Regions from separate parts of the Homo sapiens genome. Here region 2 is linked to region 1. A link means that fine-mapping ties the variant in region 1 to the expression of a gene that starts in the linked region. Tissue or cell type: whole blood. Region 1 holds a variant in brackets; the other region holds the start of a gene. All regions are shown on one strand. Distances are between the middles of the regions.

The links. PIP is the estimated chance that this variant, and not a neighbour inherited with it, causes the effect.
Region 2: PGM1 starts here. The variant in region 1 is fine-mapped to the expression of PGM1 in whole blood (INTERVAL, PIP 0.98).

Annotation. Positions count from the first base shown.
Region 1 is chr1:63,655,780-63,663,670 of GRCh38, reverse strand. It overlaps PGM1 (phosphoglucomutase 1), which reads right to left. Exons shown (of 11, transcript NM_002633.3): 11 at 3,426-4,085. The coding sequence ends at 3,996. It also overlaps the pseudogene RN7SL130P. Among named protein-coding and RNA genes, the nearest start is that of PGM1, 66 kb to the right of the region's middle. The variant A/G (reference allele first, on the strand shown) is at 3,590.
Region 2 is chr1:63,590,782-63,595,781 of GRCh38, reverse strand. It overlaps PGM1 (phosphoglucomutase 1), which reads right to left and starts at 2,371. Exons shown (of 11, transcript NM_002633.3): 1 at 2,048-2,371. The coding sequence starts at 2,293. RefSeq lists enhancers at 1,335-1,394, 2,095-2,384 and a silencer at 1,755-2,054.

The DNA.
Region 1 (7,891 bases):
CACTTTTTGAAAGAGTTCTTGGTTAACCAGTGACTAGCATGGAAGTTGCTCAAATCACTTGTCACCTGTAAAATTGAGACAATCCTGCCTTATAGGTCAGGGAGATTCCAGCATAATGAAACATTCTGCCGTGCAACTAGTAGATTTCATTCACTCATTCTGAAAATATTTAATGGGGCTTTTGCTATGTGCCAGACACAGGCCTAGATCCTGGGTAAACACTGGTGAAAAAGGCAGTCTCTGCCATGTAGGAGTTCCCAGGGCAGTAGAAGAAATGGAAAGTAAACAGGTTATGAACATAGAATGGGATAAGCGCCTCGAAGGGGGAAATAGAGGTGATAGGAACACCAGAAAAAGCTCCCAAACCAGACACTGGAGGCTCAGAAAGCACTTCTTGGAGGAAACGATGTTTAAATTGAGACCTGAGGAACAAGTAGGAGTTGGGAGAATATGGCGGATGGTGGAATGGAGGGGAAAGGTGGAGAATGTAGTGGAGGGTGGGATGGAGGGTAAAGGTGATTCAGGTGGAAAGAAGAGCAGCTTCCAAGGCCTGGGGGCAGGAGGGAGGTGCCATGGTTCCCCAAGACTGAAGCTTGGAATGTAAGGCTGTGAGTAGGGGGAGAGGAGCGGGAAGTGACAGGCAGGTGAGTCACACGGACCTGGAGGCTACACAAAGGCCTCTGCACTTCAACATTTGAAAGAGTACTTAGCTGGTGGTGTGGAGAATGGATCAGAAGGGGCAAGTGGGAAGGCCAGAAGGCCATGGGGTGCCCCCGCCAAAGCCCACAGGCCATGCAGTGAGTCCTGCATGAAGGCTGTTATACTCATATCCAACCCCCTCTGCTGGGGGGGTTCAGAACGCAGAAACACAAGGGGGGCACCTCTTACTCATGGTAATATGTTTTCTGGAGAATTCTTATAAGCAAGGCCAGCTTCTAATGAGTCAACAAGAAACGTTGAAGAAAGCAGCATGGCAGAGGAGGCAGAGGGACCCTGTCCTCAAGCCTGGCCTTGAAGGGCCAAGGAGATGACACTCCCCAGAACCACAGTGAGCTTGGCCTCTGCTTTCACTCCCTATGAGGCAGAGCCCAGCCACTGGAAGCCTGGCCACTGTGTAGGCCTGGGGCACATCGCTGAACAGGAAACTGCTTCTCTGAGAGAATAGCTGAATGTCAAGAGGGAGAGAAAAAGTGAAATTTCAGAATTGGGCCCCAAACAGTTCCAACCCAATTTTCTCACTGTAATTCTCACCACACCCCAAAGAAAACAAGCCTGACTCACAGACCACATCAACGCTGGAAGGCGGGGAAGCCTGGCTGGGTGCTGCTGCCCGCCTCTCAGGACTCCTCTCCCGCACTCCCTGGGGCACACACACTGCGGCATCTCTTTGGAAGCCCTGGAGAGACACAGTGATCCTTACTACCCACACCCACCTCCACTGCCCCATGGCTCCAGCCACCTCCTTCTTCCTCCCCTGAGCTTTTAACTTCCAAGCTGTTGCCAAGTGGAGGCAGGAAAAGCAGTTGAAATACGATCAGGGAGGAGGAAATTTTTGAAGCCATTCCAGGGGCCACAGAACTGGGAGTATCCGCAGCTGATTCAAGAGATGAGGAGGCAGAAAAGGGTCAGGAAACATGAACGATACTTAGGGTCAGAATTCCAGTTCCATCACACGGTAGCTGAGAACCTGGGGCAAATTAATGAGCTTCTGTTGAGCTTCAGTTGCCTCAACTGGAAAGCGAGAAGAATGATGTCTTGCTTCGAGGGTTACTGGAAAGCATCTAGCCCAACATCTGAGATAGAATAGGTGCTTGGAGAATATGTAGGTTTTACCTACACAACTCATAACATTTATCCCATACAGTTTCTACTTGTGCTAGATTCGATTCCCCTGGCAAGTCTTACAGGCAGCTTGATGGCATGGGCTCTGTGTTATACAGCTCTTCCTCCCAAGCACCTCACACTTAATGTGGATCAATACATATTTCCGGGCTGACTGATACATCCAGATATCCAGATCTCTGCAGGAGCTAATATAATGCCAAAATAACAGATTCTTTGGCATCCAGAGCACACAGTATCCCCCTTTAATGCGTAAAGCACAGGGGCATTTGCACACCTTTCTTCCACGTTAGGTGTAGCCTAGAAGTAGACAGTCCGTAGAAGAAATCTGAAGTGGTTTGAACCCTGTAGGGCTGGAGCTGCACTGTCTGGGAGCATCTACCACTCCCCAGCAGTGTGATCTTGGTTGAGTAACTGAACCTCATCTGTAAAATGGGAATATTCAGAGTACCTACCTCAGAGTTGTCAGGAAGATTTAAAGAATATATGGAAAGCGCTCAGAAAGAATATATGGAAAGTGCCTGGCAAGGGGTTAACGTTCCAGACAAACTCATCACCACCACCACCATCATTGTCATCATTGTCAAAGCATAGTTTTGTTTGCTGAGCTGGCAACAATGGAAATCTTACCCCAGATAAAGATCCTGCCACCTGTATCAGGGAGTCCATACTGAGTAGGGGAGGGGTACAGAGCTGGGCTGACTTTTTAGAATAGCCCATATGGCAAGGTGACTTTGTGAAAGTACCTTGGAAATGTAAAATGTGTTACAAATATTAGTGTTACAGTTTTTGTTTTTCCTGTATATACAGTACTTTAAAATCTAAAAATGGTATCATAAACATAATTCTAGTTTTCACTTATTTAACAATGTACCATGCACTAGATACTGTGCTCACTGCTTTACACAAATGTACTCACTTAAGGTACTCAACAATTCATAAAGGTAGAACTACTTTCATCCCCACTTTAAGGATAGGGTAATGATATTCAAAAGTCACTCAGGGTCTCAAGTGGGATTCAAACTTGGGTCTGTTGGCTCTCAAGTCTACGCTTATTTAACTATAATATACTCATGGATGGAATATAAGTGTTCTGAGCTGAATAAGATGCCAGTGGGCTCAGATTTTTGGCCAAATGTCAGTAACCCTGCTCTCAGATTCTGAGGGTTCTGCCTCCATCCCTTCAATAAGCGTCAAGGCATCTCCGCACTGCAGAGCACGTACCAGTGCTTTGCTATTTAAGCACTAGGAAGAGGAAAATCACTCTTCCTTTCCCTTGTTCCAAGTTAACCATGTCAAGCTTGATTTGTCTACCTTGGAAGAATCCAGAGCTCAGTTGACCCTGCTAAGATTTTAAATTACAATTCTCTTAAAATTTATGTTACTTTTTAGAATATTCAGGACAATAAAAAAAATTACAGTTCTTGAGTCTAAGGATTTGCAACCTAGCCTAGAGACCATTTCATTTTCTGACTAGGACATGAAAACAAAATACAATACTCCCCTCCTTCTAAAAAAAAAATTGTTTTTCTTTCTAAAATCAAAAAAGTACTTTGCAGTTAAGAAAAAAAGACGACAAGCAATTGTAGCTTATTTTCCTTTATTATCCCAAAATATCTGTGTGAATGGGACAATGTCGCAAAACAAGGCAGAAATCTGTAGCCAAGTACGTCTCACTCAGAGGAAAGAACTGATTGGACAGAAGGCACTAGAAATTGCATTTTGTTGGGTTACATGTAAACAGGAA[A/G]TGGGGGGAAAGATTCACAAAAGAGAAAGGAACTTGCACCATCATTTCATTGCCACATCCTAAGGATGAAGAATGGCCTCACTCACTGCTGATGCTCCACCTATAGCTTACATTGTAGTGTAAACTGTACCTGATGGCTAAGGAGACAAATACCCACGCAGCAGCAATGCAGGAGGGCATGAAAAGGAATTGAGATTGATCTAAGCCCGCAGGTCCTCTTTCCCTCACAGCTCCCAAGGGCATCTTGTTTGGCAGTGCCTTGTAAATGCACTGCTCGTCAACTGGTTAGTGAAAAAGTCAAATCCTAAAATGCTTGGTGAATACATTTTGTTTCTGTCATGCTCTTCAATCAGATGACTTGGATGGGTCCGGGGGTGGAGGGACGTACCACATCAGGCCTGTCTTCTTAGGTGATGACAGTGGGTGCAGTGCGTCCCGTCCTCTCCTGCAGCTGGGACACTTTCAGAGCAATGGAAATAAGGGGGGCCAACATGACCTGAGGAAGACATAGAGAGAAGCTTTTCCATCACTTCCTCTAAACACAGATGCTTAGCTCCAAACCCGTACGTCTGACTGCCTACTTCCAGGTCTCCAAGGCTCCTCAAACTCCACAAATCCAAAAACAAACACATGTTATTTCCCCCAATACCTAGTTCCAGCAGTTTCTATTTCAGTGGATCAACACTACAGTCTTTCATGTAAAGTGAACAACTAGGAGTTGCTCCTGACATCTTCCTCTGCATTTTCCCCATGCCCAGTCCATGAGCAGGCCTCAATGACTTTTCCCCGCTAAATCTCTCTCCATGGCCCCCTTTTCTCTCCACTCTCCTGCTGTTAAGTCTTGCTAAGTCAATGTCCTGTCTCTTACCTGGAGCAGTGAGTGCCTCCACATCCACTTGTGCATCTTCCAATTTCTTTCCCACACTGTTCCCAATGGGACTGATGTGGTTTGGCTCTGTGTCCCCACTCAAATCTCATCTTGTAGCTCCCATAATTCCCAAGTGTTGTGGGAGGGACCCGGTGGGAGATGATTGAATCATGGGGGTGGGTCTTTTCTGTGCTGTTCTCATGATAGTGAATGGGTCTCATGAGATCTAATGGTTTTAAAAACAGGAGTTTCCCTGCACAATTTCTCTCTTTTGCCTGCTGCCATTCATGTAAGACATGACTTGCTCTTTCTTGCCTTCCACCATGATTGTGAGGCTTCCCCAGCCACGTGAAGTGTAAGTCCAATTAAACCTCTTTCTTTTGTAAATTGCCCAGTCTCAGGTATGTCTTTATCAGCAGTGTGAAAACAGACTAATACAGGAATCTTTTTTTTTTTTTTTTGAGATGGAGTTTCACTCTTGTTGCCCAGGCTGGAGTGCAATGCTGCGATCTTGGCTCACCACAATCTCTGGCTCCCAGGTTCAAGCAATTCTCCTGCCTCAGCCTCTCTAGTGACTGGGATTACAGGCATGCGCCACCACGCCCGGCTAATTTTGTATTTTTAGTAGAGATGGGGTTTCTCCATGTTGGTCAGGCTGGTCTTGAACTCCCGACCTCAGGTGATCTGCCTGCCTTGGCCTCCCAAAGTGTTGGGATTACAGGCGTGAGCCACCGCACCCGGCCTAATACAGGAATCTTTAAAAATGCAACAACCCCTCCCCACATCTACTTCTCGCTTAAAGAAAAAAAAAAAAAAGAGAGAATTCTGTTGCTTAATAAATGCTTTCAATATTAAAAAAAAAAAAAAACTACTAATCTGGTTGAACTGCCCATTTTACAGATGAGAAAACTGATACCCAAAGAGATGAAGTGATTTGACTAAATGACTCAATAGCAGAGCCAGGAGTAGTACATTTTCTACTGCTGAATGCTACTTTTTCTTATCTAAATCTCCACCGATCCATTATACCTGGAAAAGGAGAATCAACTCCACCTGCTGAAACTACCACATTTCCCCTTAGGGCTTGGGCAGTCCCCACAAAGTGCTGATGGCCTAGCAGCTGCAGAATAAGGAAAGGCAGCTCCCCGGCTAGATGGTGATACACCTGGGCATTGTGGGAACCTCACACCATCCACTGCCATTCCACCTGCTGAGGACTATGGTTCAGAGGAAACAAATTTCATTCACTCTTTGAATCTACCACGTGCCAGGCATTTATCTTGATGATCAAAAGACAAACACAATTTCCTTCTTCCTTTTCTCTTGTGCTATTAAGTGTCTATAATGCAGACCCCATTGCCTTTGGTTGAAGTTTTAGGGATGCCTACAACACAACAAGGTACTGGTGATGACTGAAACTGGGGCCTGGCCACTGGAAAAAATGTAAAAGTGAAGCATTCTCTCATCTCCCACTTTCTGTAATAAAAGCAACTATACTACTCATGTGAGGTACCTACAATGGTCAAATTCACAGACACAGGAAGGAGAAAGGTGGTACCAGGGATTGTGAAAAGGGAGAAGCAGGGAGGTGCTGTTCAATGGGTACAGAGTTTTAGTTTTGGGGGAAAAAAGTTTTAGAGATACGTTGGACAACAATATGAATATGTACAACATTACTAAACTATATACTTAAAAATGGTTATAATAGCATTATGTTACACTTAAAGTTAGACTAAAAAAACTAAGAGTGCTGCTTATTCTGAAAAGTTAATCCTATATGCCAGCCACAGTGTTTAAACATTTTACATTTATTATCTCCTTAAACCCCGGTAACAACTAGATGAAGTAGGTATTACTCTGCCATTTGACAGACAAGGAAACCAAGATTCATAAAATTGTAACAACTTACCCAGGGACACACAGTTATTAAGTGGCAGGAATAGAATTTAAAACAAGATCTCTTTAACTTTGCTCAAAACCACTATGCCAGGGGTTTCCAAATGAGTTTCACAGGATTTTAATTAGGTGTTAAAAGAAAAAAGCCTTTGTGGAAAAATAAGCATGGCAAATGCTATTTATTTTATTTTACTTTCAATTTTTTAATAAAAATTGTTTATGTTTAAGGTATATAATATGATGTCTTGATATACAAATACATAGTGAACTGATTACTAGAGTCAAGCCAACTAACATTATCAATCTTGTCACCTACTTACCTTTTTTGTTGTGGTGGTGATAGTGAGAACAATTAAGATCTATTCTCCTAGTACATTTCAAGTGTTATTCATTATAGCCATCATGTTGTACATTCCATCTCTAGAACTGCTACATCCTACATAACTGAAATTTTGTACCCTTTGGACCAATATCTCTCCATTTTCCCCATTCACTACCCCCTAGTAAGCCCCTTTCTGCTCTGTTTCTATGAGATTCACTTTTTTTAGATCCCACATACAAGTGAAATCATGCAGTATTTGCCTTTCTGTGTCTGGCTTATTTCACTTAGCATAATGTCCTCCAGGTTCATCCATGTTATTGCAAATGGCAAGATTGGCAAGATTTTGGTTTTTGTTGTTTTAAGGCAGAATAATTTTCCATTGTGGTATACACACACACACACACACACACACACACACACACACCACAATGTCTTCATTCATCTGTAGATGGGCACTTAGGCTGGTTCCATATCTTGACTATTGTGAATAATATTGAATGAACAAGAGAGAACAGATATCTCTTTGACATATTTATTTCAGTTCCTCTGAATATATACCCAGAAGAGGGATTACTGGATCGTATATTAGTACTAAAATATTTTTAACTTTTTGAGGAACCTCCATATTTTGGTTATTCCAAAATAGCTATACCAATTTATATTCCCACCAATAGTGTCTGATGGTTCCCTTTTCTCCACATCCTTCCCAACACTTGTTATCTTTTGTCTTTTTGAGAACAGCCATCCTAACAGGTGTGAGGTGACAGCTCATTGTGGTTTTGATTTTCATTTCCCTGATGATTAGTGATGTGGACCACCTTTTCATACGCCTGTTGGCCATTTGTATGTTTTCTTTGGAGAAATGTCCTTCAGCAAATGCTATGTAAACAGGCACCTTTACTGCAAGTCTTCTCAGCACCCTCTTTTTTTCTTTCCTTTTCTTTTTTTAGAGATGGGGTCTTGCTATGTCACCAGGCTGAAGCGCAGTGGGTATTCACAGGTGCAATCCCACTACTCATCGGCATGGGAGTTTTGACCTGCTCTGTTTCCAACTTGGGCCGGTTCACCCCTCCTTATGCAACCTGGTGGTTCCCCTCTCGGGAGGTACCATATTGATGCCAAACTTAGTGCAGACACCCGACAGGCATAGCACACTATAGCCCAGAACTCCTACGCTCAAGTGATCTTCCTGCCTCAGCTTCCTGAGTAGCTGGGA
Region 2 (5,000 bases), 66 kb after region 1:
ACCTAAAATTCCCACTCTGCTGTAAGCTCCTTAAGGACAACTCTTGGGTCTGCATCATCCTTTTAGTCCACACATTTCTCTGAACATGGTATTCAACAGGATCTGTTGAATGACTGACTGAATAAATGAATGAATGAATGAAATGCAAATTCAGCACAGGTGGTAACAGGGAAATGATCTACTGGGATACAGCTATTGTCTGTTCTTCTTTCATGGGAATTTGCGCTTGTCTGAAAATTCAGGACCACAAAGTAAACAAATCCAGGCAATCTTCTCTCACTGATGCTTATAAATGTTTGGCCCAGGAAGGCAGATGTAGATAGAGCCCAGTTTAGATTTTGGAGCCTGGAAAACAGATCTTCAAGATCAAGGGCTGTTCATTCTTCATTCTCAGGAGCTGTTCAAGTTCTTGGGATTGGCAGATCTATATTGGACTCTTAGTGCTGCCATTATAGTTTTTGTAAATTATTTAACCTACCTAAGCTTCAGCGTCCTCGTTGGCAACTTGAAGATACCCATAATAGCATCTACCTTATAGGGCTGCAGGAGGATAAATGAGACCCAGAAATGAAGCGCTTACCATAGTGCTTGGCAAATAGTACTCAATGTCAACAAAATAAGATAAATAAAGTACTATTAAAATGAATAAAAATATCCATTTCAGGGGATGCGTTCCAGAAGAATTGGGCATAAGTCAAATCTCACTTAAAATATAGAAAGAAAACTTGGTCCTCAGAACTCCTTAGAAATGTTTTACAAAAGTAAGTGAATAATTAGCCCCAACTTATCAATCCACTTTTTTTTTCTTTTTTTTTTTTTTTGAGACGGAGTCTCGCTCTGTCGCCGAGGCTAGAGTGCAGTGGCGGGATCTCAGCTCACTGCAAGCTCCGCCTCCCGGGTTCACGCCATTCTCCTGCCTCAGCCTCCCGAGTAGCTGAGACTACAGGCGCCCGCCACCACGCCTGGCTAATTTTTTTTTTTTTTTTTTTTTTTGTATTTTTTAGTAGAGACGTGGTTTCACCGTGTTAGCCAGAATGGTCTCGATCTCCTGACCTCAGGTGATCCACCACCCTCAGCCTCCCAAAGTGCTGGGATTACAGGCGTGAGCCACCATGCCCGGCCCCACATTTCCATATATCAGATTTACTGAAAAACTTTTTTTTTTTAATTTCCCCTATCCGAGTGGACCCGCCCAATCAAGTCAGTTAACTTTCCTTGGCCGGGGGCGGAACCAAGGTGTTGCGGTAATTTCCTGGCCTGCCACGACTGCTTGCTTGCGTAAGGGCGTCTTTGGGTATGTTGCCATTCTAATGAAAATTCAGCTCCAGCCCCGTCGGTGGAACAGATCCCGGGCACCACTGGGCAGAGACTAGATGTTTCAAACGCCTGCCCCCCAGCAAGCAGGCCGCGCAAAGGGCAGGAGTTCGGAACCAAGGCAAACTAGGGGGCGGGGAGAAAAGATTGGCACCCGCCTGCTGAGATCTGCCAACCTGACGCCCCAGGGGGATGGGTGCTCTCGCCACCCTTGCCCCACAGTGTCGGGCTCCGAGCCAGCGGGAAGCGCCAGTCCTAGCCGAGAATAGCAGAGGAGCGGGCGGGATGCGAGGGGGCTCTGGGCGAGGCGGCGGCAGTCTAACCTTTCCTGCTTAAGGCGACAGCACTCTGCGCCGTAATCGTATCTTCCAAGGCTGCAAGGTTAGGGCAAATGTCAGACGCCTCGGGAGGGGCGGGGGACGGGGAGAGGGAAGGCAGCGGCTAGAGACGGAGAGTCGGGCGTGACCTTGGGAGGCTCCGCGCCCGCACCTCCCGGCGCCCCGGGAGTCAGGCGAGCAGGTCTGCCGGGTCCCGTGGCCACTTTCCCCAGCCCGGCGACCTCCGTCGGGCCTCCAGGCCAGAAGAGCGAGCGCGAAGGAGAGGGAGGAGCGGGAGGTGGAAACCGAGGCGGCAGCGCGCGGAAGCGGCCGGCCCCGAGCGAGGGAGGGCGCCGCGGGCCGCACGTCGCACACGCGCCAGGGTGCACAGCGGCGCGGGGCCGCGCATCCCTTACCCCGTTGGCGGCAGCGATGCGAGCGATGAGCTGGATGGCCTCCTTCATGTAGAACCGGCCGTCCCCGCCCACCACCAGCGTGGCCTCCTGCCGCTGCGCCGGCTCCACGGTGGAGATGATACTCTGGATGAAGTTCTCCGCGTAGTTGGCGCTGCTCTGGAACACCTTCACCCGCTTCCGCAGCCCGCTCGTGCCCGGCTTCTGGTCCTGGTACGCCTGGGTCTTAACTGTCACGATCTTCACCATGGTGGCGACTTGCTGCCGGGGGTCAGAGCGGCGGACTTGGCTGGCGGAGGGGCGGCCGGCTGAGGCTGCAGCTGCTCTGGGGTGAGGGCACGGCGGGTGGGGGCTACGCCGCACTCTAGGCCGGCGTTTGGCCCTCCTCCTTAAAGGGACAGGGGACAGGGCCCTCCCTCCGCGCCAGCCCACCTCCTGGCAGGTCCGGCGGGAGGGGAAAGGGGAGCGCCGGTCTCTAGGCCTCCTGTGAAATGGGTGGAGCCTTACTGATTTACTCTCCCCTTCGGAATCCTATCCACTGTAAAAAGAGGCCCGCAACTCCTCCTCTAAGTGTTGGGGCAGAGGTTGGGGTAGGAACCCGGTCATAGGGCAAGGACGTGAGGCAGGGTGGAAAAAAGTACAGGGTAGAATGATTTCCAGTGGTTTGGCGAATGCATCGTGTGTAAATAGCTTTCTGGAAACCTGTTGGGAGGGTCAGAAGTGCCAGCCCCAGCTCGATTTCATGAGTCGTAATTCTTTCTATTTCTCCCTAAATGTGAGGGCATTTGAGTTCCGTAAAGGAGTCGACTCCAAATGTTTCCTGCTGCACCACACACTTGACTACCATTGGTGACGGTGACTTAGCTATGACTTGCTGAGTGTAGCGTTTCTAAACCTTACTAAACTCTGGGTTTTATTTTTCCCCTTTTTATGCTTACAAAACTGAAATTCAAAGAATAAAATGCCTTGTCTCATTGCCACACAGCTAAGTCCATGCGGGAGGCCAATTCAGGTGGTCTGGCTCCAAAACCAGGGCTCTTCCCATGATTTGCCCGCTGTGACACCAGGTTGGCAACTAGGAAATGTACAAGCAGGACTTGACAAATGTAGGAGCAAATATATGGTAAGGATAAGTATGAACACCATCAAAATTAGCCAGTTACTCATGTAATAGAAATAAAGTGAGGAGATCAACAAACAAGGACTGACATGGCTGGAAAAGTTTCACGGGGGATAGCAAGGTCAACCAAGGGGATTTGATTATTAAGTAGGAATCTTCAGTCTTTCTTGCTTTTCGGTTTAGTATCTCCCTTAATTTGATGAGAGTGATTGTCTCCTCTGTTCAAGAAACCTGTCATTTTGGTAAAGTGGCAAAAAACTTGGCTTTACAAGGTGTGTGCTCTTGGGAAAGTTAGTTAATGTCCGTGGGCATCAATTTCCTTACTGTAAAATAAACATATCACCTACTTTGGAATATTTTTGCAAGATTTAATGGGGTTTTGTATGTCAGAAATTCTCAGTCATGGATACACAGTAGAATCCTACTGTGACCCATGCTCACAGTAGAATTACTTGAGGTGGTTTCTAAATGACCCAGTCCAAACAAATTCAATCATAATCAGCTGTTAGAAGTAAATCATCTAGCCTGGTGCCTGAAACATAGAGGCCTTCAAAAATATTAGCTCCCCTTCCCCAATTCCAAAACCAGAGCATATCATTCACCTGTGAATTATATTCTTTTGGTAGTTAATTGGTATGTCTTGATCAAGCAGGGAGGCGAACAGACCCATAAGAGTGCAGACTCTCACAAACCAAGTGTTGATATACATGCTCATATAGTACATGCTATGTAGATACAGTGTGTTGATGTAGTCACTATAGATGAGTTTCGGTGGCAAATATTATGTGAAAACGGAACCCTGGACTGCTAGTAATGAGTTCTAATATTTGCACAGGAGTTTACAGAGCAGTGTAATCTTGTGAATTAAATAATATAATCAAGCCCATTTTATAGACGAGAGAATTGAGGATTGGATGGTGAATGTAATCAAGGTTATCTAACTCCACAAAATGAAAATATAGCATAGATTCACTGAGCCTTCAAAATACCTACCTTAGAGTTGTATGGTTTAGATAGAGAATATACAGCTCCTACCACAGTGCTAATAAGTAAGTCATCAATAAATGATAACTTGTAAAGTCACGGGCCCAAATTCAGATCTCATGCCCTTTCTATATTCTTCAGTATCTTTGGAAATATGATGGAGCTTTTCATTTAAGAGGAATTGATCTATACTTCTCTCACCCCAGAAGTTGTAACAATTAGCTTTAACTGCATAACACACCAGTCTAAATCTGAGTGGCTTAAGACAACCCCCATTCATGATTATAGTTCATGATTCTATGAGTTAACTGGCAGTTCTGCTGTTCTGGACAGGGTTACTGTGGCCCCTTATACAGACCTAACATGATCCCCATGTTCCTTGCCTCCTGATAATCATGCCTTTATGCAATCCCCTTGTATTACAGATTGAGTATCCCTTATCCGAAATGTTTGGTACCAGAAATGTTTCAGATTTTAGATTGTTCCGGATTTTGGAATGTTTGCATTACAATGGTTGTGCATCCCAAATCCAAAAATCCCAAATTCAGAATGTTCCAATGAGCACTTCCTTTGAGTGTCATGTTGGCACTCAAAAAGTTTTGGATTTTGGAGCATTTTGGGTTTGGGATTTTTGGATTTGGGATACTCAACCCGTACTTTTCTACTGCTGTATGACAAATTACCACAAACTCAACAGCTGAAAACAACACCCATTTATGATGTCACAATTCTATAGATAAGAAGTCCCAATTCTATAGATCAAAAGGTTTGGCCAGGTTCAATCCTGGTAATCACGGATATATAACAGCTTATAAACATCAAGGAGAAAGTATTTTGACCTTCATTAAATTC